Regions from separate parts of the Homo sapiens genome. Here regions 1 and 3 are each linked to region 2. Evidence: fine-mapped expression QTL. A gene starts in region 2. Each other region holds a variant in brackets. All regions are shown on one strand. Distances are between the middles of the regions.

Region 1 (8,253 bases), 42 kb before region 2:
GAGTGCAGTGGCTTGATTTCAGCTCACTGTAGCCTCCACCTCCCAGGTTCAAGTGATTCTCCTGCCTCAGCCTCCCAAGTAGCTGGGACTACAGGTGTGTGCCACCATGCCTGGCTAATTTTTTGTATTTTTAGTAGAGATGGGGTTTCACCACGTTGGCCAGGCTGGTCTCGAACTCCTGACCTCAGGTGATCCGCCCGCCTCAGCCTCCCAAAGTGCTGGGATTACAGGCGTGAGCCACCACGCCCGGCCCCCTCTGTTTTTAATCCTTGCGTTTTAGACCTTGGCAAAGTCCCCAGGCTTTGGAGCAAGCCTCTCATCCCACTTATTTTGGTTTTCTGCAGCCCTTTCTCCAAAAGTTTCCAAGCTGGTCTCCGTGGGGTGACGCCCCCCACACACACACACATCAGGAGGTCCAAGGACATCTTTCTCACACTTGATCTGCTTTCTCCCTAGAAACGCGTCGAACCTCTGTCCCTGGTCCTCCTAAATTGCTCTGTGGCGCGTCTCGGTGTGTTTTGTGTGTATATCCTGTTTGGCTTTCCTTGGCCCTTTCCATTTGAGGCCTTGCAGCTGTTTTTGAGGTTGGATGAAATTCACATACCATAAAATGCACCATTTCAAAGTGGCGTTTAACACGCTTCCAGAATTGTACAGCCCGCATTACTGCTCCCCAAAAAAAGAAGCCCTGTGCCTTTTAGCAGCTGTGCCCTCTTTCTCCGCCCTAGCTTGTGCCCACCTCCAGCCCACCGTCTCTGTAGGTTTGTCTGTTCTGGATGTTTCTGTGAGGCCGAGCTGTCCGTGTTCATTGAGTCCTTATTCCTTACATCCTCCCCGTCCATGTGCTTGTCCCTCCCTTGGGCTCCTGCAGTGCTCCCTGCACCCACTCTCGGACTTTCACCTTCCCCTGCCCTCTCTGTGGCCCTTCCTTCCTCCCAGGCAGGCCCCTCGCTCGCTCCCCACTCACTGTGGCTGGTGCCTGCGCCCAAAAGACCTGTGTGGCCCTTGTTCCTCCTGGGAGCCTGGTCCCCTGGTGTGCTTGTCCATCACACCAGCCATGCTCCTTGGGGTCTTACAAGCCCTCAAGGGGGTCCCAGTTACCAGCCTGGATGGCCACTCAGGCCCCCCAAGGACCCAGCCCCTGTGTGTGTCTGCGGCCCTCTGAGGACTGTCCTCCCTCTGCTGTGGGCCTGGACTCCCTCTGCTGTGCCTGCAGCTGCCCGTCCTCACTCAGCCCCGCCCCTATACCGGGTGGCCCCACCTTCCCTCCCCAGGAGTGACTCTCAGACCCTCCCTGGGCTTTTGGGAGCTGGGCACACACCCCCACCCAGCACCTGGGCTCCAGCTTCTCCTCGTCCCCAGGGCCTGCTTGGGAGTAGCGATTCCTGGGGTTGGGGTCCCTGACAGCGCCCTGGTCATGGCTGCCCCCACAGCGTGGTCACCACCCACTCGCCAAACCACCAGGCTGGGGCTCCTGAGTGGGAGGCACCCAGTGCTCTCAGGGGTCCTGGCCACCCCCAGCCTCACCTCCTCCTGGAGGCAGCAGATTTTGAGCAGTGACCACAGAGGCCCCCCAGGAGGAGGAGTGTGTGGCGTGGCCAGAGCTCCCCACAGCCCGAGGGCCAACCCTGCCCTGAGGTATCTGCCCACGACCCTGCACATCCCATTCTTCTCACAGAGCCACCCAGCAGATATTGAGGGGGGACGCTGCAAATTACACCAACAACACCTTGAGTGGTGTTTCAGTTAAGGATAATGCAGTAATTTTAGAGCTGTCTGATGGGGTTGTGGCTATGCTGGCAGCCTCCATGACGTTGCCTGGTCTGGAGGGGCTTCTGGAAGGACCATGTTTGCATGTGGCCATTGAGGGGCCTGGCCCAGCCACAGGAGGGCAGGGGTCCAGCAGTCCTTTTCCAGGCCTGGGATGGCTGGAGCTGCCAGCCACTGCTGCCATCCCATTACCAGAGTCTAGAGGGACTGGGTGCGGTGGCTCACGCCTGTAATCCTAACACTTTGGGAGGCCGAGGCAGGCAGTCACTTGAGGTCAGGAGTTCAAGACCAGCATGACTAACATGGAGAAACTCCATCTCTACTAAAAATACAAAAACCAGCTGGGCGTGGTGGCGGGTGGCTGTGATCCTAGCTACTTGGGAGGCAGAGGTGGGAGAATTGCTTGAACCCAGGAGGCGGAGGTTACAGTGAGCCAAGATCATGCCACTGCACTCCAGCCTGAGTGACAGCGAGACTTTGTCTCAAAAAAACAGAAACAGGCGTCTAAGGGAAACTGTCTGGGTTGGGGAGGCTGCCCGAATGCTGTTTCCCACCCTCCCTGCCATGTGTTTGCCGGGGTCTGATGTCTGCAGAGCAGCCTCCATGCCCCAAAAGGCCAGAGCTACCCGATGGGGTCTGGCACTTTGTCGAGCACTGCTGGGGGGGTGGCAGCTGCTCCCATTCACAGCTCTGAAGTGACATGTGCCCTAGTCTGGAAGAGGCTCCCAGTGTCAAGGGGACTCTGCCCTGCTCAGGACAACAGCAGCCTTTCCCGTTTGGGAGCCTCAAACATCCCACTACTCCTGGGCAGGAGCAGAAAGGTGGCTCGAGGTGCGGTCCTGTGGCCATTTCTCACTTGGATAAACCCTGCACTGTCCATCTGTGACCCCTTAGGATCCTGCGGATGTCCATGCCACACGGCCCAGGTCCCTGCGCCCCTGCAGTTGCCTACTGCCTGTCCTCCCCTCCCACATGGCACCCGGGCTGTAGGCCCCACGCCAGGCCTCCTCCCTGAGGCTGCAGCCCCAGGCACGTGGGGGGCACTGTCCTCACGCAGCAGGCACTGGTCATGTTCCATTGTCAGCTGCCTCCACCTGCACAGACTCCTGTCTGTGGAGACCAGAAGCTTCTGGAACCACCTGCCCTGGTCCCAAATGTGCAGTGTGAGATGTGCACACACTCAGGGCCCCGTGACCTGGAAGCCGCAGTCGTGTCCCCAGCACCTTGGGAATGAGCCTGTCCTCTGTGTGAAGGAGGGGGTGGTTCTCAAACCACTGACTCTTGGTGCTCAGGAGGGGCCTGCTGCTGTCCTGGGCATGGGGTGGTCATTGTTCAAGACTGAGGCAGACTCAGTCTTTGAAAGGGTGCAGAGGCCAGGCGCGGTGGCTCACGCCTGTAATTCCAGCACTTTGGGAGGCCAAGGCGGACAGATCACGAGGTCAGGAGTTCGAGACCAGCTTGGCCAATACGGTGAAACCGCATCTCTACTAAAAAATAACAAAAATTAGTCGGGCATGGTGATGTGTGCTTGTAGTCCCAGCTACTCAGGAGGCTGAGGCAGAAGAATCACCTGAATCTGGGAGGCAGAGGTTGCAGTGAACCAAGATCGCACGACTGTACACCAGCCTGGGCGACAGAGTGAGACTCCGTCTCAAAAAAAAAAAAAAAAAAAGGTGCAGAAACCACTGCCCCGGGCAGCCATCCCCAGTACAAGGCACTGCCCACCCAGTACGAGGCACTGCCCATCAGTCCAGGGCCAGCAGCGGGGCCAGGGCAGCCTGAGGCCTGTCTGGTTAGCCTCTCACCTGGGGTCTGGACAGAGTGAGGAGCCCTGTCCAGCAGCCGCTGCGCGGCCTGAGGGTCACCCTCAGGCTCAGGCAGTTTCAGGCCCCGTGTCACTCTCCAGGCCACTGAAAGGACTTGGTGGGGTGGCTTCTTCCGAGGAAGCTCCTGGAAGATGTTTTTCCTGAGGTTTCCTCTAATACAGGGTTCACACGGCCTGGGGCTCTGGCCACCCCACCAGGTGTTGTCCCCCAGACCACTGGGGACAGTGGCTGCCCCGAGTGGCCCTGCCCCTGCTGAGAGCCACAGCCTTTGGGGGTACAGGGTGGGGCTGTGGGGGAGCTGGGTGGGCTCCCAAATCCATATCCTGGTCTCCCCAGGTACATCCAGACACTGAAGGACCACAGGCCCCGGATGGTGTGGGACAGCCAGGCCTCAGAGCACTTCTTCGAGTACAAGAAGTGAGTGTTTTGAAGTGCGTGGCCCACCTTGGCCTTGTGTGCAGGGAGGGGCCCTGGGGGTGGAGATGAGGGAGCAGCAGGGCCCAGGGGGTCTCAGGGTCACGAGCTCACTTGCTGCTCCCGGCCCTGGAGCACAGCTGGACAGCAGGTGGCCACCTGGTGGGTGGGAGGAGTACAGGCCGTGGACCTTGGCTGTGAGGGGAGGAGGCCTGGAACCAGCAGAGCGGATGGGCTGACAGTCCCTTTGTCTTGCAGGAGCCGCAGTGGGAGGCACGTCGTCTTCTACCCAACCCTGAAGGTGCGTGTGCTGCCAGCCGTGGGACCGGGGGAGGGGTGGGCCATGCGACAGCACAGCAGGCACTGGCCTGGGGTCCAGGCGGTGCTGCCCCTCGGCCTGGAGGACATCCCTGGGTGTTGGGGGGACAGGCCCCAGCAGGTGCTCACACCTCCATCTGTGCCCAGTCCCTGCAGGTGCGGCTGGAGCTGGCCCGGGAGCTGGGCGTTGGGGTCTCTATCTGGGAGCTGGGCCAGGGCCTGGACTACTTCTACGACCTGCTCTAGGTGGGCATTGCGGCCTCCGCGGTGGACGTGTTCTTTTCTAAGCCATGGAGTGAGTGAGCAGGTGTGAAATACAGGCCTCCACTCCGTTTGCTGTGACGGGTCTGCTGCAGTCCTCAGTCGGGGGTCCTGGGCACCATGTGACTCCCCATCCTCCCATGAGGGGTCCCTGCCCTGGATGAGTCCTAGCTGGGGGACACCCTGAGAGCTCGAGCCCCTCCCACCCGGGCATCCGCTGGCTGCCTCCTGTCAGCTGGGCAGGCGGGGCCCACAGTACCTGCCCCACCAGGACAGCCTGGCTCAGGCCTTTCTGGGCTGCTTCTCACA[T/A]CCTGGGCTGGATGTGGGTTTGGAAGCTCTGGAACCATCCCGGACTCGCCCACTCCTGGATTCGAGGGCCCTCGCAGGGACAGCTCTGCCCAGCATCACCCCAGGGCCTGGCAGTGATAGAGCTGAGAGCTCCACCCCCACATACCTGCCACCCACCTGGCCAGCCACAGCACGTGTGTCACCTGCAGAGAGCCACCCAGACGTCCCCACCGAGTCCAGCACGGCAAGGGTGCAGGGGCTGCCCTAGAAATGGGCTCAGAGGAGCCTGGCCCACCCTCTTGAAACTGGTCCTGGACCTTGGCTCAGCTCTGCCGCCTCAGGTAGCACGACCCCCAGGCCAGCCTGGACACATCAGGGAGCATGGTGAGGGGCAACGGCAGGACCCGTGGGCCATATCGGGACAGGCATTTCCAGCGAGGGGTGGGGCAGAGGACATGTGGCTGGCAGGCTACACCCACCCTGCCATGCAGCGGTGTCCAGGCTCTGGGGAGGCCCTGGGGAATTTGGAGGCATCATGAGCCAAGGCCTGGTGGCCCTCGTTCCCCTGCCCCTCGTCACCATCCTGTCCTTGGCTGGCCGTGAGGACTCCCCTCCTCACCACTGGGTCCCACAGGGCTGAGGTGGGCAGTAGAGGGCATAGGTGGGTACATGTCCCGGGCAAGGTCTCTCGGGGGGACAGAAGTGAGTCCAGGGAGTGGGTGGGCCTGGGCGTCCCTCACTCAGAATGCCGTGGGGTGAGGACGGTGAGGACAGGGTGGGCACTGGGTTCTGGTTTAGAGTCAGTAATGTTAGGGCGCAGTGGGCAGGGGGTCAGGACATCTCCAGCCGGTGGTGAGGAAGCATGGTGGGGTCTCCTCCACAGGACGGGAGCTGGGGAGGGGGTCCTGGGTCGGACCCAAGGCACCCACACTTGAGAAAGCCTCCGCCTGGACGTCAGGGAGGCCTGCGAGCTGCCACAGTGCAGGTGCAGCCGTTCCCACCGCCCTGCTGCTGCTTGACACGGGCATAGGAGATACAAGTGGTGTGTGCGGCGGTTCATGCCTGTAATCCCAGTACTTTGGAAAGCCGTGGCGGGAGGAACGCTGGGCAACATGGTGAAACCCCGTCTCTACCCCCTAAAAATAGAAAAATTAGCAAGACATGGTGGCATGTGCCTGTACTCCTGGCTACTCAGGAGGCTGAGATGGGAGGATCGCTTGATGAGGTTGAGGCTGCAGTGAGCTGTGACCGACTGCACTCCAAAAACCTTGTCTAAAAAAACACAAGCTGCCACTGGCTTTGGGGCACTGACCTTGTCTCCCCAGAGGTGCTGACGCTAACATTCAAGTTGTTCTCGGGGGTCCTGTGGCTTCTGTTGGAGTGAGGGTGGGGGACACGCAGGTCTGGGAGGGTGGTGTGGGCCTGGAGCTAGGCATTGCCAGATCAGCATTGGGTGGAGGCAGGGGTGGGGATGCCACACAGGATGGGATGTCTAGAGCGGGCTGTGTCTCCCGGGGGGATGGGCAGAGGGTGGGGCAGGAATTAGCTGGAAATGAGATTGTGGGGTGCAGTTTGGGGATCAGATGCCCCAACCTGAACTGACCGTCATCCCTGTGGCCAGGGTCCCCACACAACCCTCACCCCTGGCTGTGAGAATCCTGAGGCACCTTGATGCATTTTTTTTCATGCCCTGTGACAGGTGCTTTGTGCTGCCAGCTCACTTAAAGGGGCAGAGTTCTAGGAACAAAATAGGGGAAAAGCACAGCCCCGCCTCGACAGCAGGCCCCAGGGTAGGGGGCGATGTGGAGGGAGGCCCGCCTCAGGAGGAGCCCCCGGGGTGGGGGGGTGAAGCAGAGGGAGGCCACCCCTAGCAAAGGCTGGCAGTTCAGGGACGGCCCCCCAGGGGCCTTGGCACTTTATTTTTTATTACTTTTTTTTTTTTTTTTTTTGAGATGGACTCTTCCTGTGTCATCCAGGCTAGAGTGCAGTGGTGCGATCTCGGCTCGTTGCAACCTCCATCTCCTGGAATCAAGCGATTCTCCTGCCTCAGCCTCCCAAGTAGCTGGAATTACAGGCGCCCGCCACCACGCCCGGCTAATTTTTTATTTTTAGTAGAGACAGGGTTTCACCATGTTGGCCAGGCTGGTCTCAAACTCCTGACCTCAGGTTATCCACCCACTTTGGCCTCCCAAAGCCGAAGGGATTACAGGTGTGAGTCACTGCACCCGGCCTCATCACTTCTTAGAGCTAATGTCATGATTTCCTTAAAACCAGAGGTCTGGAGACTGCTCTGCAGGCAGCTCCCCCAAGCCTGTGCACCAGGTGACCCCACAGCCCCAGGGCTCTGCCTAAGCACCGTTCATGCCAGAGGCTGCCCTGCCCCAGGCCTGGGTGCCAGAAGGGAAGATAGGGTAGGGAAGGCAGACGAGCAATAGACGCAAGGTTGCTGCTCACACTTTATTAAGATGCACCAGGAGCCCCACGGGCCCACTATGGAATGTAGGTGAGGGGTCCACGGCCCCGCCTGGAGCACCAGGACCAGTGGGGCCACCTCCAGGATGCCAAGACCCGGCTCCTCCAGCGCCAACCTGTTTTCCAGGAGGCTGGGGGCCACAGGCTGGCTCCCGTGTGAACACTGCTTTGGAGAATACGTAAATATAAAAAGTGCTGGAGGCCCCTCCCACCCCTGCCCTGGGTTCCGCAGCCAGCACGTGGCCACCCCTCCCAGGGGGGGTCCGGAGGCCCTGAAGCCACCTGAGCTAGGGCCTTCCAGAAACAGGGTTCCGGGGGCTCCAGGCACCTGTCCCTCCCTCCCTCCTCCCAGCATGGGGCAGAGCACCGAGGCTGGTGGTGGGAAAGGCAGCTGTGGGTGCGGCCATCTCCCCGTGGGCGTCCTTTTGGCAGAGAAGCGGGCGGTGGGCGGCCTACGCGCAGTAGGTGTCTGCCTTGACCACTTGGCAGTACATGGTCATGGCGAAGGTCAGGCCCAGGATCTGTAGGTAGGGGAGGAGGACTGGGCATGGCAGCTCCACAGGCTCAGGCCTCAAGCCCAGAGCAGTCCCTGTCCTCAGCAGGTGCCCTGGCCCTGACCCCGACCCCAGGGTGGGCGACACAGTGGCAGAGCCCTTCAGCTTCCTGGTGGCTTGCACGCCCCACCCAACCCCTGTGGCTCGAGCCACAGCACCCTCCCCTGAGCCTTGCAGGCATGAGGACACCCAGAACTTCCTGAGGGCTGTGGAGTTTGGAAACCAGGGGCCACTGGCACCAGGGCCCCAGCTGCCACCCTCTGTGCACTGGCCAGTCCTGGGCCACCGACCAACATGGACGACCACCGGCCTCCACCCCACACCAGCCTCTGCCTCTGTCCACTAAGAGG
Region 2 (8,000 bases):
GACCCGGCCCTCCTCCATGCCCAACCCCCATCTCTTTCTCCTCACCCAGGAACCGCCCAGAGGCTGCAGGGGTCGGCAGAACCGATGCCGGCCTGGGGCGTGGGAGGGCCTAGCGCTGTGGGCAAATGCGGGAGAAGGGCTACTGTACGTGCAGTGTGGACAGCCTGGAGACCCGGGCAGGCCTGGGGTCCCAGCGAGACATACCCATGGGGTCCTGGGGGGCCCATGCCCTCCAGACTGGAAGGGACCACTGGGAGCGGTGCGAGGAGGTGAGGGACGAAGGGCAGGGCCGGCCTAGGGCTGCACCAAGACGCCAAGAGTGGGAGTGAGGAAGGAGGGGGCTGCCCACCCACCAAGCTCATTCATCACAGCCACAGGGGAGGACCAGCATGGGAGGGGGTGGCCGACTGAGGCCGGGAACCTGCCCGGCCTCCCTGGCGAGACAGTGGGGAGCCCTGATCCACACACTGGCGAGGGCCCCGAGGGGCTCCAGCCTTGATGGGTAGTGTGAGTTTGGGGCATGACCAGGGACACAAGAGGACACGCAGGACCTCAGCCCCATCGCCACAGGCCCGCGCTCCCTGTATTCACCCACACAGCACGCGTGCACAGGTGCCCACCTCATCCATGTGGCACACACAGGCTGTGGCTCCCAGACACACGGAAGGCCCAGGAGGACGCAGTGCAGTCAGTGGGTTTTATTTGACGAGGGGGTTTTCTGCTGAACTGAGATGGGGTTGATTGAACGGGGACAGAGCGAAGACTGGCAGAGGGCACACACGGGACCCTGGCCACTCCCGGGACCCTGACCACTCCTAGGCTAGGTCCTTCATGTCTTCAGTCAGGCGAGCCTGGGGCCCACTGGGGAGAGCCTGCATCCTGAGTGGGCACCCCCGACCCATGACAAGCCTCCTGCAAGGGCAGCTTCTAGCTCATGGTCCGTGAGTCACTCGGGGCTGGTCACCGGGCACTGGGAAGGTGGCCAGAGCCGCGTCTGGGGGGCCGAGCCCAGCAACAGCAGCAGCAGCAGGTGGGCCCAGGCAGGCGGGCTGTTGTCAGAGCCTTCCTGCAGCTGCTGCCCGCCCGCCTGGCCTCGCAGGCGTCCCTGTCATCCCGCAGCCGTGTATTCAGCTCCCTAGGGAAGGAGGAGTCCGACACTGAGAGGGTCTGAGGGAGCTCAAGGTGGGGGGAGGTGAGCTCCGACTCCCCTCAGAGCGAAGAGAGGTGTCTGGCTGAGGCTGCAGCGTGAGGGGTGAAAGGCAGGCATAAGGAAGGACTTCCAATGGAGTAGAGCGGCAGCCAAGAATGTTGGGGAGCTGGGAGCCCCCAAGCTCCGCTGAGCCCATTCCCTCTCGGGCCTGAGCCTGACCGTACCTGAGCAGCTCCAGTTGCCGTAGCAGGCTGACTTTCTCTTTCTGCATGTTCCTGGAGACGGCGACCACGTCTCTGTGGATGGGAGGTGGTGACCCGGCTGCAGGAAGGCTCCTTGGGGAGCCCCCGGACCCCCTAGAAGATCCTCCTTCCCACGGGGCGGGCCTGGGACTTGAGATGGGGATGAAAGTGGCCCAGACCTGAGCGCCCGTCGGCCCCGCCCCCGGGACACGCACCGGGGCCCGCCCAGCCCCGTCCCACGGCACCGTTGGGTTTGCTCCTGGCGGCCTCGTGCTTCGCTCTCCAGCCTGCGGATCTGCTCCTGCGCCCCCTCCAGCTGCGTTCGCAGCGCCTCGTGCGCCCGCCACAGCTGGGAGTTCTGGGCCTGTGCCTCCAGGTGCTCCGCAGCCTGGGCGTGCAGCTGCTGCTCTAACTGGAGGGTGGAAGGATGGAGACCGGCGAGGAACGCCCCCTCTTCCCCGGGGTGCTGCGCGTGCCCCAGGCTCCCGACAACCCGGGGACGCTAAGGCACAGGGGGAGAGTGCACGGGTGACCGTGGGGACAGGGCAGGGGCCGGGTGCTCACCTCCCGCTGCCGCAGGCCCGCGCGTTCCAGGTCCTGCTCGCGGCTCTGCAGCTCCAGCTCCAGACGGCTTCTCCGCTCCCCGCGGGCGAAGTTCTGGGACGCACGGAGGACCACTGAGCCTCCGCCGGCCGCTCGGCCATGCAAAAGAGGTACACGGAGGGCCAGGGGCTGGGAGTGGGCCCGGGCGGAGCGGGGTCGGGTGGAGAAGACCGGACGGGGGTGATACGTGAGGCCCAGTGGGATCTCCTCGGGCTGAGGGCAGCCTGGACCCGCGGAGGTGGGGCCGTCGGGGAGGGATTAATTCAGAGAAGGCGGAGCCAGGGAGGCCAGCGAGGTGGGATTGGGCCTGGCGGGAGGGGCGGGGCCCGAGGCCCACCTGACTCGGCGGGCGCCGGCTCTGCTCCCGAAGCTGCTCCGTCTCCTCGTACAGAGCGCGCACCTCCCTCTCGTGCTCGCTCTCGCGCCTTCGGGGGACCGGGCGACCCCGGATGAGAACTTGCCAGCGCTACAGCCCCCTGGCACCGCCTCTGCTGCTGCCCTGAGGCCCTCCATTGGCCCCCATACCCCACCCCGGCCCTCACCTCCGCAGCGCCTGCTCCAGGCCGTCGCGCTCCCGGGCCGCCTCCTCCAGGCAGGCCGACGCGCGTATCAGAACATCCTCGAAAGAGCCCAGCAGCTCGGGGCGCTCGCGCTGCAGCCTGGCCCAGAGCGTCCTCACAGCCCGCTGCCTGGAGGGCGGGCGGGAACTGAGGCTGGAGCTGGCAGAAGCGGGAAGCAGGCTTCCCTCCGCCAGCAGCAAACCCTTAGGAGACTTCTTCGCCCCTGGGCAGGACAGGAGCACTTGCTGCGTGCAGGGCATCCCTCCCGTGAGCGCTTTCGCCCCTGCCCGGCGTGCGTGGTCGGTGAGGTGTGTGTACCCTGGGCAGTGCCGGTATGTGGCCCCGCGCCCGGCGCTGCCCCTCCTCCCTGCAGCCCTGGCTGCTGCCTCATGAAATGCAAATTCTGCGGGAAATCATGCCGGGTCCCTCCCAGGGAATCGCAGCTGACGCTAGGCTGGGCCTGACCCGGCCTAGAGACCCTGTGCAGAACCAGCACTCGGGTGACAAGGGCAGACAGCATGCAGGCAGAGAAACAGCAGAGCGGGCAGTGGGAGCGGGGCCAGCGCCGACTCACTTGCCCAGGACCGGGGCCACCCCCAGCTGCTCCAGCACAGTGTGGAATCGCTCCTCCTCTTCCTCCTCCTCATCCAGAGAGCCCGCCGTGCCCTGCACGTCGAGCCCGCCCGACTCAAAGGTCTCCTCGGGAGTCCTGCAGGGGTTCGCTCCCTGGGCTGACGCCACCCCCACAAACATCCCTGCGGGCATGGAGCGAGCGATTACCAGGGCTGTGGGTCGCCACCGTGGCTGTGTCCCCGTTCACCCTCCCAACGAGTATCCTGCCCTCTCTCAGGGCCCAGTTTCCTGTTTTCCTTCCTTATTCTGGTCCTATTGGCCTGGAAACAAGAGGTGACAGGCCAGCTCCCAGCCCTACCGGAGCTTAGCACAGGAGAGGAGCTGGGGGCCAGGAAGGTCAGCTCCACACACTCCACCGCAGCTAGGAGCCCCCAGGCGCGAGTGCGTGCAGACAAAGCACGGGCCCTGGAGGGAGGAGGACGAGAGGCACCGGCAGCCCTCAGGGCGCCACAAGTGCCAGGCCTCCTGATCAGGCCTCCAGCTCTGGGCAGTGGGGGATAGGCAGGCCACAGGCTCACCCAGGCCCAGGCAGAACTCCCTGGCGGTGAGGAAGCCAGTGTGAGCCCGGTCCAGACTTTCAAACACAGCCTCCAGCTGCTCTGGCGTGAGGGGCAGGTCGCTCTGGAGACCCTGGTCGGGGAAGGAGAGCAGAGATGAGCCGCTGCGGTCAACCCAGGGCCGAAGCAGTCTCTTGGGGTGGGGGACTCACCTGCAGGTCGTGCTTGGTGATGAAGCCCTTAGCCTCCTTGTCACACAGCAGAAACAGCTCCTCAGCCTGCTCCAGTATTGCAGCCCGCGGCCCTGCAGAGCCCCCCTCGAGTTCCCCCTCCTCCTCCTGGGCCTCATCAGCCCCAGGCTTTCCAGGGCTGGCCATGAGAGCAGGGGGCCTCAGCCTGGCCTTCAGGTGCTGTGAAGCCAAGGGAGGGTCAGAAGAAATTCAGGAGGGGAGCGGATGGGGTGCAAGTGTGTCTGAAGGCTCAGCCGAGGGCCCTCCCTGCAGCAGGTGGGAAGGTGGGCGGAAGGCAAGGTGGGACCAGGGGGCTGGGGGTGGAAAATGCTGCAGGCTTGGGGTGTCACTGGGGTGGTTGATGTAGGCTCAGGGCCTGTGGGTACTGCCCCAGTGGGTCTGGCATCTCAGGAGGCTGGAACCCAGGAGGGGCTGCCAACTTCAGGAGAGGAGGAGCTGGAGGTGATGGCAATCTCAGGGGCCAGTGGAGAAGACCTGGTGATAAGGAAGGTGGGGTCCTGAAAGCTGAGAGGAGCAGGCTTGGGGTCAGTGAGGGAGGAGCCCCTCACACTCTGCAACTGGAGATCTGATCCCAAGTGAGGGCTCAGCCAGTCCTGACCAAGTCCTTAGCCCCTGGCCTGGGCCTGTGTGGCCCAGCCTCATGACAGCTGGCAGGCAGGGCAGACTTCTCCCTCCTGCCCACCGGCCCCTCCCTCCCCACAACTGAGCCCACAGAGTGCAGGGGCAAGGTCCCAGCCTGCAGAGCCCTTCGCCTCTGACGCCCCACTCAGGAACACTTCCAGATTCGAGACCTAACACCCTTGCCCCACAACACTGAGGCCCTTCCCCGTTTCAGAACTCCCTGGGGCCTCCCTTCCCACCTCCTTGCAGGGACGCCCCGCCCCCTAACCAGAGCCACCTGTCCTTCACACAATGTCCTGATCCCGGATTTCCCAAAGCTGCTCCCCACCAACACCCGCCTTCCCCCACCGGGGAGCTGGGATCCTCTCCCCTCACTCTCCACCCAGCGTCCTTCCATGTTCCTTAGCCCGGGCGACCTCCAAAGAGGGCAAGTCTGGGCGGGTGAGAGAAGGGGACACGAGAGGCCAGGGCCATTGCCTCCAGGCCACGTTGTTGTCTCGCCCGCCCTCCGGCTTGCCGGCTAGACCTGAGGTCCACCCCAGCCGGAAGCCGCGCGGCAGCAGGGCCCCAGGGAGGTGGGAGGATGGGCTGGTGGGGTGGGGCGGCCAGCCTCCTGTGCTCCCCGAAACTCTGGGGGACAACCCCGCCCTTACCCCTGCCGCCTTGCGCCCCGAGGGGGTAACCGGAGTTCCCGACCGAGACGCTCAGGTTTGGCGCGGGCCACGGCGGCCCGGAGGGGGTGCCGGGCGGGCGGCAGTGGAGGGGCCTCAGCGGCGGGACCAGCGGTCGCCTACCCGCGAGTTGCGCCGCCGCACCTGCCGCGCGCCCGGGCCGCTCCTCCCGGAAACACTGGGCGCGCCCCGCCCCAGCTGGGACCCGGACGGGACGTAGAGGGCACTGGGCCCCGAGCGACCCCTGCCGCTTCGCAGGCACCGAGACCCCCGCTTGGGCCGGCCCCGGGAGGAGCCACTCTGCGCCGCTGTCGCCTGTCCCCGCCTCTCTGCGCTGCCCCGGCGGCCCGATCCCTGGAGGCTCGAGCGAGCAGTGAAGCAACGATATGCCCCAGAGACCCAGGGACCCCCCGGAGCAGGGACAAGGCTGCGGGGGGCGGGCGCAGACACCAGCGCCTGGGAGGGGCCCCTCCTGTCCGGGGGGAGCCCGACTTAAGGCGCCAAAAAGTGTGTGTAGGAAAAAGCCGGGCAGGAAACAGACCAAATACTTTCAGCGGTTATCTCTAGGGGTGGGGAGCCTTTACTTTCTTCTCTATACTTTCCCGGTTTTTAAACAATAAACATGTAGGCCGGGCGCCTGTAATCCCAGCACTTTGGGGGGCTGAGACAGGGGCAGATCACCTGAGGTCAGGAGTTCGAGACCAGCCTGCCCAACATGGCGAAACCCCGTCTCTACTAAAAATACAAAAAATTAGCCAGGTGTGGTGGTGGGCGCCTGTAATCCCAGCACTTTGGGAGGCTGAGCCAGGAGAATCACTTGAACTCGGGAGGCAGAGTTTGCAGTGAGCCGAGATTGTGCCATTGCACTGGGCAACAAGAACGAAACTCCATCTCAAAACAAAACAATGAACGTGTAATGCTAGAAAATGTTTAACTTAGCAGTATTCAGTGTATATGTATGGGTGAACGAGCTGGGGACTCAGGCAGGTCCCACCTCAGTAGCCCCTCCTGGCTCTCCTTCTGGGGCCCAGCCCTGACTGGGGCTCCCCTTGGGGGAGGATTGGAAGGAGGAGCTGCTTGAGGCCCGAGTGAAACCCTCCTGTGGGGGGAGAAAATTCCACCCCAGACCGAGGAGCCCTCCCCAGCCCCAGCCCCAGCCTGGCCCCTGCACCCACCTGAAGGGCTGGAATCACTGTCCCGCCCGGCAACCCTGGGGGGTACAAGGCCTCTGCTTTTCAAGGAAGGGGCCTGGGATCCAGCGTGCGACCCAGCTGAACCACAAAAGGCTGGGCTTATAGGACAGGACCTTGAGACCAAGGGGGGTGGCCTCTGGCACAGGCACATCAGGGACCTGCCTGGCCGGCTCGCCCAGTCCCAGATCCCAGAACCAACCGTTATTGTTGGCAGGGGGCTGCCACCACAGCCACCCCACGCCTTCTGGGAGGAGCAGGTGGGGGCTGGCTCCAGCACCCTCAGGCCATGGGGCCTTTTTGGTTGCCAAGGAGGGCTGGCCTTCTCCCCTCATGGCCTCCCTGCCATGAAGAGGATGCCCTCAGGAAACCACTTCCCCAGCACAGGGCTGAGTCCCCTTCAGCTAGGACCTCACCTGCCTCCATATCCCAGCCCTGCCCTGTGTACTGGCAGGAGGCTGGGCAGGGGAACAAGAAGGTATGTGCACCAGGCCAGAGAGGCTTGTGAGGGTGGGGGGACAGAGAACTTTGGGCCAAACGCCCAAGTGGAGCAGGGGCCCAGCTTTCCCAGGTCCCCTGTGCTTGGTTTCAGGAACCTCAGCCCCCACAGCTGGCCAAGCCCCAAAACAGTCACACACCCCACTGTGTCACCGTGTGAGGGGAGGGGCAGGCGACACCTTTTGCAAACATTTTCGTTTTTATTTACCAAGAATCTTGGTCCCAAATATTTCCATTGGCCCTCAGAAGGCTGTGGCCAAGGGTCAGCCAGGAGGCTGCTGGGCAAAATTGGGGGGGGTGTGGATGCATCCTAGACAGGGGGGTCGGCAGGAATGCAGTACGTTCATATGTGCCTGTAGGGGGGTGTTCCCAGGCCAGCCTGGCAGGTTCCAAATGCCAGGCCCAGGAGTGCGACGCTGGGAGACCTGGCCTGCAGCTGTGGAGAGGCTGGTCAGCCAAGGTAGGGCCAGACCCTGGCCACCAGGCTCTCACTGCAAGTAAGCAGGCGGTCACATACACACAAAGTGGGCAGAGGCTGGGCTGCAGCATTTATTACATGTGCTTTGGCGAAAATAAATAATTCTTCACACACATATTTCAGCAGGCCATGAAAAACGGGGAGGGAAGGGCAGCTGCAAAGTTCTCAGGAGTAAAGGGGCGGGGGAGGTGCTCGGGCAGCACAGGGGAGGGAAGATTAAGGCACAGGTGCGCGGGGCCTCAGCGGCCCAGGGGAGGGGTGTGGAAACCTCCCCTCTCAGTGCATGCAGCTGGTGAGTGGCTGGCGAGGGGGCCCACGGCAAAGACCCCTCTTGGCAACTGTGAGTCCCCTCATCTCACTGCGCAGTGGTAATGGAGGCGTCTCAGGCAGGGTTCCTCGAGAGGGTCGGGGTCTCACAGCCCCAGGGCCCCGATCACGGGCCGGGCCTCGGGAGCAGGGGTGCTCAGCAAGGGGGCAGGCCCGGCCAGCTGGTGCTGCGGGGATGCTGGGTCCGCGGGGGCGGGAGCCGGGTCGGCGGGTGCGCGCATGCGCAGAGCTTCGGGCGGGAAGGCCACGTTGGTGCAGAAGAGGCCGAGCAGCAGCTGG
Region 3 (8,253 bases), 400 kb after region 2:
TCCCAGCACCTCACTCCCCCTGACTCGTGAACCCCTGTGACCCAGAGACCTTCGAGGATCTGATGAAGGACGGGGTCTTTGAGGCCAGGTTCCCCCTGCACAAGGTGAGGGGTGGGCTGGCCTGGAGAGGGCCCTGGGGTGGGACCCTGGGATGGGGGCTCTCACTCTCTGTCACCCGAGCCAGGGGGAGGGACGCCTGAAGAAGACGTGGGCGCGGTGGAGACACATGTTCCGGGAGCAGCCAGTTGATGAAATCAGGTAACGCTGCCCAAAGAGAGCACAGGAACCCCGCGGACGGCCCCGCCTCCTGCGGACGCCCCCAGATACCCGCGGACGCCCCCACACCCCCGCGGAAGCCCCCAGATACCCGCGGGAGCCCCCACACCCCCGCAGACGCCCCCAGATACCCACGGGAGCCCCCACACCCCCGCGGAAGCCCCCAGATACCCGCGGGAGCCCCCACACCCCTGCAGACGCCCCCAGATACCCGCGGGAGCCCCCACACCCCCGCAGACGCCCCCAGATACCCGCGGACGCCCCCACATCCCCGCAGACGCCCCCAGATACCCGCGGGAGCCCCCACACCCCCGCAGACGCCCCCAGATACCCGCGGGAGCCCCCACACCCCCGCAGAAGCCCCCCAGATACCCGCGGACGCCCCCACACCCCCGCGGAAGCCCCCAGATACCCACGGGAGCCCCCACACCCCCGCGGACGCCCCCAGATACCCACGGGAGCCCCCACACCCCTGCGGAAGCCCCCAGATACCCGCGGACGCCCCCACACCCCCGCGGAAGCCCCCAGATACCCGCGGGAGCCCCCACACCCCCGCAGACGCCCCCAGATACCCACGGGAGCCCCCACACCCCCGCGGAAGCCCCCAGATACCCGCGGGAGCCCCCACACCCCCGCAGACGCCCCCAGATACCCGCGGGAGCCCCCACACCCCCGCGGACGCCCCCAGATACCCGCGGGAGCCCCCACACCCCCGCGGACGCCCCTAGATACCGGCGGGAGCCCCCACACCCCCGCGGACGCCCCCAGATACCGGCGGGAGCCCCCACACCCCCGCAGACGCCCCCAGATACCCGCGTGAGCCCCCACACCCCCGCGGAAGCCCCCAGATACCCGCGGACGCCCCCACACCCCCCAGACATCCACACACACCACCCAGAAGCCACCACCTCCTGTAAACGCCCCCACACACCACCCAGAAGATGCTCCCACACTGCCCACACCCTCACAGATGCCCCCACGCCCACAGATGTGCTTCCCATTCAGACTCACTGATGCCACCAAAAGAGAGACCCCCTCCCCCACCCCCCTCCCACCCTGTCCCTCCCCCACTGCCCCCTCCCTCCCCCATCCCTCCCCTGCCTTGCCCTCCCACCCTCATCCCTCCCCGTCCCTCTCCTGTCCCTCCCCCGCCACCCCTTCCCACCCCGTCCCTCCCCCATCCCTCCCCTGCTGCCCCCTCCCACCCCCATCCCTTTCCTGTCCCTCCCCCACCGCCCCCTGACAGCTGGCCTTGACCCCTGCTGCCTGCAGGAACTACTTTGGGGAAAAGGTGGCCCTGTACTTCGTCTGGCTGGGCTGGTACACCTACATGCTGGTGCCGGCCGCCCTGACGGGCCTCTTAGTCTTTCTGAGCGGATTCTCGCTGTTTGAGGCCAGCCAGATCAGGTGGGCCGCAGCAGGGGCCGGGCATGGGGGGCCGGGGTGGGCCCTGCTGCCTGGAGGAGCCGACCCCAGCCTCATCCCTGCCCCTTCAGCAAGGAGATCTGTGAGGCCCACGACATCCTCATGTGTCCCCTCGGCGACCACAGCCGCAGGTACCAGCGGCTCTCGGAAACCTGCACTTTTGCCAAGGTTTGTCGCCTCCGGGTCCACCCCAGGGCCTGCGGAAGATGGGAACGGTGCATCCACCCGAAGCGGGGGAGATCAAGGCCTGGAGCCCTGCAGAGCTGCTCAGCTTTCCCCACAGGGCTGACGGGGAGGCCCAGCCCCAGCCCACCCGCCCATTTCCTCAGCCCACCTGCCCCCTTCCCCGGCTTTCCTGCCTCCCTCCCTGGCTCACCTGCCCCCCTCCCCAGCTCACCCACCTCCTCTCCGGCCCACCTATCACCCCCCCAGCTCACCCACCTCTTTGACAATGATGGCACGGTGGTGTTCGCCATCTTCATGGCTCTCTGGGGTGAGTTGCTGCGGGACGCCTCTGCGGGGCCAGGGGAAGTGCCAGCCCAAGCTCCGAGGTCCACCTGGCGTAGTGCAGTGATGCCCCTCCTTGCCCCCGCCGCAGCCACGGTGTTCCTGGAGATCTGGAAGCGGCAGCGCGCCCGCGTGGTCCTGCACTGGGACCTGTACGTGTGGGACGAGGAACAGGTGAGGTGGAGCTGGCAGCGCAGCTGAGGCCGACCCGAGCAGGGGCTGTTGGCGCCCGATGCCCTGCACGGCCCACATATGCCTGCCGTGTCTGAGGTGTGTGTCCCGAGTCTGTCTCCCCACATGTGGGGCGTGTGTCCTGGTCTGTCCACCTGTGAGGCGTGTCCCTGTGTCTGTCTCCCCACGTGTGGGGTGAGTGTCCCGTGTCTGTCCACCCGTGAGGCGTGTCGCTGTGTCTGTCTCCCCACGTGTGGGGTGCGTGTCCCATGTCTGTCTCCCCATGTGTGGGGTGAGTGTCCCGTGTCTGTCCACCCGTGAGGTGTGTCCCTGTGTCTGTCTCCCCACGTGTGGGGTGAGTGTCCCGTGTCTGTCCACCCGTGAGGCGTGTCCCTGTGTCTGTCTCCCCACGTGTGGGGTGAGTGTCCCGTGTCTGTCCACCCATGAGGCATGTCCCTGTGTCTGTCTCCCCACGTGTGGGATGAGTGTCCCGTGTCTGTCCACCCGTGAGGCGTGTCCCTGTGTCTGTCTCCCCACGTGTGGTGTGAGTGTCCCGTGTCTGTCCACCCGTGAGGCGTGTCCCTGTGTCTGTCTCCCCACGTGTGGGGTGCGTGTCCCGTGTCTGTCTCCCCATGTGTGGGGTGAGTGTCCCGTGTCTGTCCACCCGTGAGGTGTGTCTCTGTGTCTGTCTCCCCAC[A/G]TGTGGGGTGAGTGTCCCTTGTCTGAGGCTTGCCCGGTGCTCTCCCCAGGAGGAAATGGCACTTCAGCTCATTAACTGCCCCGACTACAAGCTCCGGCCATACCAGCACTCCTACCTACGCAGCACCGTCATCCTCGTCCTGACCCTGCTCATGGTACGCAGGGGACACCGCGGTGGGGCTGGAGACCCGGGCTGCATGCCCTCCCCGGCCCCCGCCCACCACAGCTGTCCCGCAGATCTGCCTCATGATCGGCATGGCCCACGTCCTGGTGGTCTACCGCGTCCTGGCCTCCGCGCTCTTCAGCAGCTCGGCCGTGCCCTTCCTGGAGGAGCAGGTGACCACGGCCGTGGTGGTGACCGGGGCTCTGGTGCACTATGTGACCATCATCATCATGACCAAGGTGGGGCCGGGAGCAGGGCAGGCCCGAGCTGGGGGGTCCACCGGAGCCCCAGTGAGCCCATTCGGTGCCCTCCTCCGCAGATCAACAGGTGCGTGGCCCTGAAGCTTTGTGACTTCGGTGAGAGGACTACCCCAGACCCTCTTGGGGGACCCGGCGGGAGGACTCAGGGCTGGGGCCTTGGGGCTGTGGTCAGAGAGCAGGGGAGGGGACCCTTCCTGCTGCCCCAGGGCCTCTCCTATGAGCAGGGAGAGAGGTGAGGGCCGGTCCCATTCCAGAGATGCCCAGGACCTTCTCGGAGCGAGAGAGCAGGTTCACCATCCGCTTCTTCACACTGCAGTTCTTCACCCATTTCTCGTCTCTCATCTACATCGCCTTCATCCTGGGCAGGTAGGGCCGGCGCCAGGCTCCCTCCAACCCAACTCACGAGGGCTTGTTCCACTGCCTTTAAAGTGGCAATGTCCATTCTTTTAATTTTAAAAGTAATTTCTGCTGAGAGCAAGTGGAAATCCAATCTAGAGACATGTGAGCAAAGCCTGCAGTGAGCCCAGCTCCTGAATCCCGGGCCCCGAGGTAGCATCAAGACAGTCTGGTGGCCTCCCAGGCTTTTTCATGCATTTGCAGGCGCATAACAGCACTGGCAGAAATGGCTTTGTCCTGGGAATAACTGCACCTGCTCTTTATGCTGAAAATGCACTTGGTGTCTTCCTGGGTCTGCCTGCCCACACATCCTCGTATACATGTATATATGAGAGAGAGAGAGAGAGAGACAGAGACAGGGTCTTGCTGTCGCCAGGCTGGTGTCCAGTGGCACAATGTTGGCTCACTGCAGTCTTGACCTCCTGGGTCTCCTGAGTAGCTGGGATTACAGGCGTGCACCACCACACCCAGCTAATTTTAATATTTTTTGTAGAAATGGGGTCTCACCGTGTTACCCAGGCTGGTTTCGAATTCCTGGGCTCGAGCGATCCTCCTGCCTCAGTTTCCCAAAGTGTTAGGATTTCAGGCGTGAGCCACTGCACCTGGCCAAAAAAAGGTGCATATGGATTGATGGAGCCAGAAAGACTCATTTCACTAATTAGGAAGGCGAGGTGAGAGGGATGCTGGCTGCAGCTTTACTTTTTTTTTGAGATGGAGTCTCGCTCTGTCGCCCAGGCTGGAGTGCAGTAGCATGATCTTGGCTCGCTACAACCTCTGCTTCCTGGGTTCAAGCAATTCTCCTGCCTCAGCCTCCTGAGTGGCTGGGACCACAGGTGCGCACCACCACACCCAGCTAATTTTTGTATTTTTTGTAGAGAAAGGGTTTCACCATGTTGGCCAGGCTGGTCTCGAGCTCCTGACCTCAGGTGAGCCACCACGTCTGGCCCTGTAGATGCTGGTTCTTGACCCCCATCCGTCTTGGGAAAGGCGTGCACCATGGCTTGCTGTGGGCCACGTCTCTCCTGGTGGGACCTCTCACTCTGGAAGCTCCTGCGGGTGAACCCTGGTCTCCTGTCTGGAGGCAGAAGGACGCTGTCTATGTGCTGGGAGGCCAGCTGGGGTTGGGGAGGACAGTGTGGGGCCTCAGTGTCAATTGGTCCAACCCTGTGTGCTGAGTCCCTGGTTGTTCAAACCCCTAGTGAGCTTCTAGTCCTCCTGAGGGGGTTTTGTGGTCAGGTAGGAAGCCCAGGGACCTTCCAGCTGGGCCTGCATTCCCCTAATCAGTGCCCCCAAGCCACCAGGGGTACCCAAGTCCCGAGGCTTCCTGGGGATCCTGGCAGGGCTGGGTTGCTTCCTGAGTGTCTCCCCCGAAAGCCTGATGTCTTGAGTGGACTTCAGGCCTCTCCAATTCCCTTACACCTCTAAGGTGATGCCTGGTAGTGGGTGTCAGCAGCCTGTCATTTTATTTTTATTTATTTACTTTTAGAGACAGTATCTTGATCCATTGCCCCAGGCTGGAGTACAGTGGTACCATTACAGCTCACTACAGCCTCAAACTCCTGGTTCCAGCAATCCTCCTGCCTCAGCCTCCCGAATAGCTGGGACTACAGGCATGTGCCACCATGCCTGGCTAATTTTTTCTATTTTTTGTAGAGATGGGGTTTTGCCATGTTGCCCAGGCTTGTCTCGAACTCCTGGGCTCAAGCAATCCTCCTGCCTCGGCCTCCCAACGTGCTACGGGATAACAGGTGTGAGCTACCGCACCTGCAGTCTCAAGCAATCCTCCTGCCTTGGTGTCCCCACGTGCTGGGATGACAGGTGTGACCCACTGCACCTGCAGTCGCCATTTTAATTGTGACTTGGGAGTTTGCATTTACATTAACATAGATCCTGCTAAAGAGACCTCCAGAAAGGCTGTGTCAGTGACAAAGCTACCCACAGTGTGTGAAACTATATGTTCCATCTTGAGCTGATGGGCAAAGTCTTTTCATTTTTTAAAAGTGCCTTTAAAAAACTACTGGTGAGGGGCTGGGCGAGGTGGCTCACGCCTGTCATCTCAGCACTTTGGGAGGCCGAGGCACGAGGATCATGAGGTCAAGAGATTGAGAGTATCCTGGCTAACACGGTGAAACCCCATCTCTACTAAAAAAAAATACAAAAAATTAGCCGGGCGTGGTGGCGGGCACCTGTAGTCCCAGCTACTGGGGAGGCTGAGGCAGAATGGTGTGAACCCGGGAGGCAGAGCCTGCAGTGAGCTGAGATCGCGCCACTGCACTCCAGCCTGGGCGACAGAGTGAGACTCCGTCTCAAAAAAAACAAAACAAACAAACAAACAAAAAACAAAAAACAAAAAACTATTGGTGAAGTCTAGCATCTTTCCAGATATTTACTGATCATTGTATTTTTTTTCCTATGAATTGACTGTTCATATTATCGGAGCATTTTTGTTAGGTTATCGTAGCATGAAGGCCAGGCTTCTTTCTTGCTTGCTTTTTTTTTTTTTTAACTGTCAGTTTCTTATAATCATGGTATGTTTTACTTTGCATCATATTTGTAACATTTATTGTACAGCTCTTTGTTTTTCCTGGAGTTTCTTTATCTTTTGTTGTTTTTGATTTTGTCTGCCTTCCAATCCATCTCCTGGGGTTTCTACTTGCCTCTTTTTCTTGAATGTCTTTATCAATTGTATCCAGCCTCTCTGTGGTACATCGTGTATTGCACGGAGTCCCTTTTCTTCCAGAGATCTTCCTTGGGAGCCTTTTCCTCCCGCGCGTCCCGTCTCTCCACGCCGCCTTTTGCTCCCGCGCGTCCCGTCTCTCCACGCCGCCTTTTCCTCCCGCGCGTCCCGTCGCTCCACGCCGCCTTTTCCTCCCGCGCGTCCCGTCTCTCCACGCCGCCTTTTCCTCCCGCGCGTCCCGTCTCTCCACGCCGCCTTTTCCTCCCGCGCGTCCCGTCTCTCCACGCCGCCTTTTCCTCCCGCGCGTCCCGTCTCTCCACGCCGCCTTTTCCTCCCGCGCGTCCCGTCTCTCCACGCCGCCTTTTCCTCCCGCGCGTCCCGTCTCCCCGCCGCCTTTTCCTCCCGCGCGTCCCGTCTCCGCGCCGCCTTTTCCTCCCGCGCGTCCCGTGTCCATGTCTCCTCCTTGTAACATCTGGAGAGATTTCCTTCACTTTGTGCCTTTTTCTCCATCGATTGATTTCTTTGTTTTACGTTTAACAATTAAAGTCTTAATTTCTAAGAGTGTTTTGTTTCCTCTTTATTTTTTATTCACAGCATCCCTTCCGTGTTTTTATGTTCTTGAGGATTTCAATTAGGTTTTCCTTCTCCCTGAGTTCTCATCTGTTCCCTAATTATCTCTTGTTTCCTAAAGGGTCCATTTTTGTTTTTTAATCGTTATTCTCCTCTTACTCCTCTGTGAGTAAATCTCTGTGGTTATTCATTCGTATTAAAGACCAAGGAACTGAATTGATTTTTCTTGATGGATGAGATGGGTCTGTATAATAGTAGCTACATCCATTGCCCACTCACACATTCTATCATTAACTCATTTAATCTGCACAGTAGCCCTATAGGGCAGAGCTTCTCTCATTGCCATTTTACAGAATAGATGACTGAGGACCAGAGAGGTTAAGAAATTATCTCCAGGACACACAGCCAGTGGGTGGCGGAACAGATAAAAACCACAAAGTCTGGCTCTAGAGCTTAGTTCTGTGCCTCTTTGCATGGGGAGGTCTCTCGGAAAACAGCGTGAAAAATCTACCTGGTTTCTCATGTTACACTAGAGCAAATTTTCTTTTTGACAGTATTCCTTTATGGTTCTATTTTTTCATGCCACTCCTCAAGATTAATAAATATGTTCAACTGTGGGCCAGGTGCAGTGGCTTATGCCTGAAATCCCAGCACTTTGGGAGGCTGAGGCAGGCAGATCACCTGAGGTCAGGAGTTCAAGACCAGACTGGCCAACATGAAGAAACCCCGTCTCTACTAGCCAGGCGTGGTGGTGTGAGCCTGTAGTCCCAGCTACTCGGGAGGCTGAGGCACAAGAATCACTTGAACCCAGGAGGCAGAGGTTGCAGTGAACTGAAATCGCACCATTGCGCTCCAGCCTGGGTGACAGAGTGAGGCTCCATCTCAAATGTGTGTGTGTGTGTGTGTGTGTGTGTGTGTGTGTGTGAGTATTCAACTGTGATTTCCTTTAGATGTTTATGATTTCAAAATATTAAACATTTGGCTGAGTGCAGTGGCTCATGCTTGTAATCCCAGCATTTTGGGAGGCCAAGGTAGGAGGATTACTTGAGGCTGGGAGTTCAAGACCAGCCTGGGCAATGTAGTGAGACCCACTGCCCCCAAACCCCCCACCG

The links.
Region 1: its variant is fine-mapped to the expression of CRACR2B in whole blood (INTERVAL, PIP 0.92).
Region 3: its variant is fine-mapped to the expression of CRACR2B in whole blood (INTERVAL, PIP 0.93).

The regions. Positions count from the first base shown.
Region 1 is chr11:866,179-874,431 of GRCh38, reverse strand. TSPAN4 (tetraspanin 4) reads right to left here. Exons shown (of 9, transcript NM_003271.5): 9 at 7,321-7,870. The coding sequence ends at 7,802. CHID1 (chitinase domain containing 1) reads left to right here. Exons shown (of 13, transcript NM_023947.4): 11 at 3,933-4,013; 12 at 4,269-4,311; 13 at 4,476-6,573. The coding sequence ends at 4,574. Among named protein-coding and RNA genes, the nearest start is that of TSPAN4, 27 kb to the right of the region's middle. RefSeq lists enhancers at 3,063-3,825, 8,036-8,253. The variant T/A (reference allele first, on the strand shown) is at 4,899.
Region 2 is chr11:824,670-832,669 of GRCh38, reverse strand. CRACR2B (calcium release activated channel regulator 2B) reads right to left here and starts at 4,751. Exons shown (of 9, transcript NM_001286606.2): 1 at 3,898-4,751; 2 at 3,707-3,818; 3 at 3,130-3,310; 4 at 2,538-2,684; 5 at 2,333-2,420; 6 at 1,957-2,049; 7 at 1,638-1,804; 8 at 1,375-1,446; 9 at 684-1,135. The coding sequence starts at 4,062. The coding sequence ends at 961. It overlaps PNPLA2 (patatin like domain 2, triacylglycerol lipase), which reads right to left. Exons shown (of 10, transcript NM_020376.4): 10 at 7,097-8,000. The coding sequence ends at 7,808. RefSeq lists silencers at 1-42, 1,895-2,504, 4,699-4,788, 5,029-5,648 and enhancers at 478-1,015, 1,016-1,555, 2,634-3,171, 3,172-3,711, 3,712-4,249 and 1 more.
Region 3 is chr11:423,699-431,951 of GRCh38, reverse strand. It overlaps ANO9 (anoctamin 9), which reads left to right. Exons shown (of 23, transcript NM_001012302.3): 6 at 46-104; 7 at 185-258; 8 at 1,549-1,683; 9 at 1,773-1,869; 10 at 2,134-2,194; 11 at 2,300-2,382; 12 at 3,126-3,230; 13 at 3,313-3,477; 14 at 3,558-3,594; 15 at 3,753-3,864. LOC105376506 (a long non-coding RNA gene) reads right to left here and starts at 128. Exons shown (of 5, transcript XR_007062542.1): 1 at 1-128. RefSeq lists an enhancer at 2,207-3,406. The variant A/G (reference allele first, on the strand shown) is at 3,077.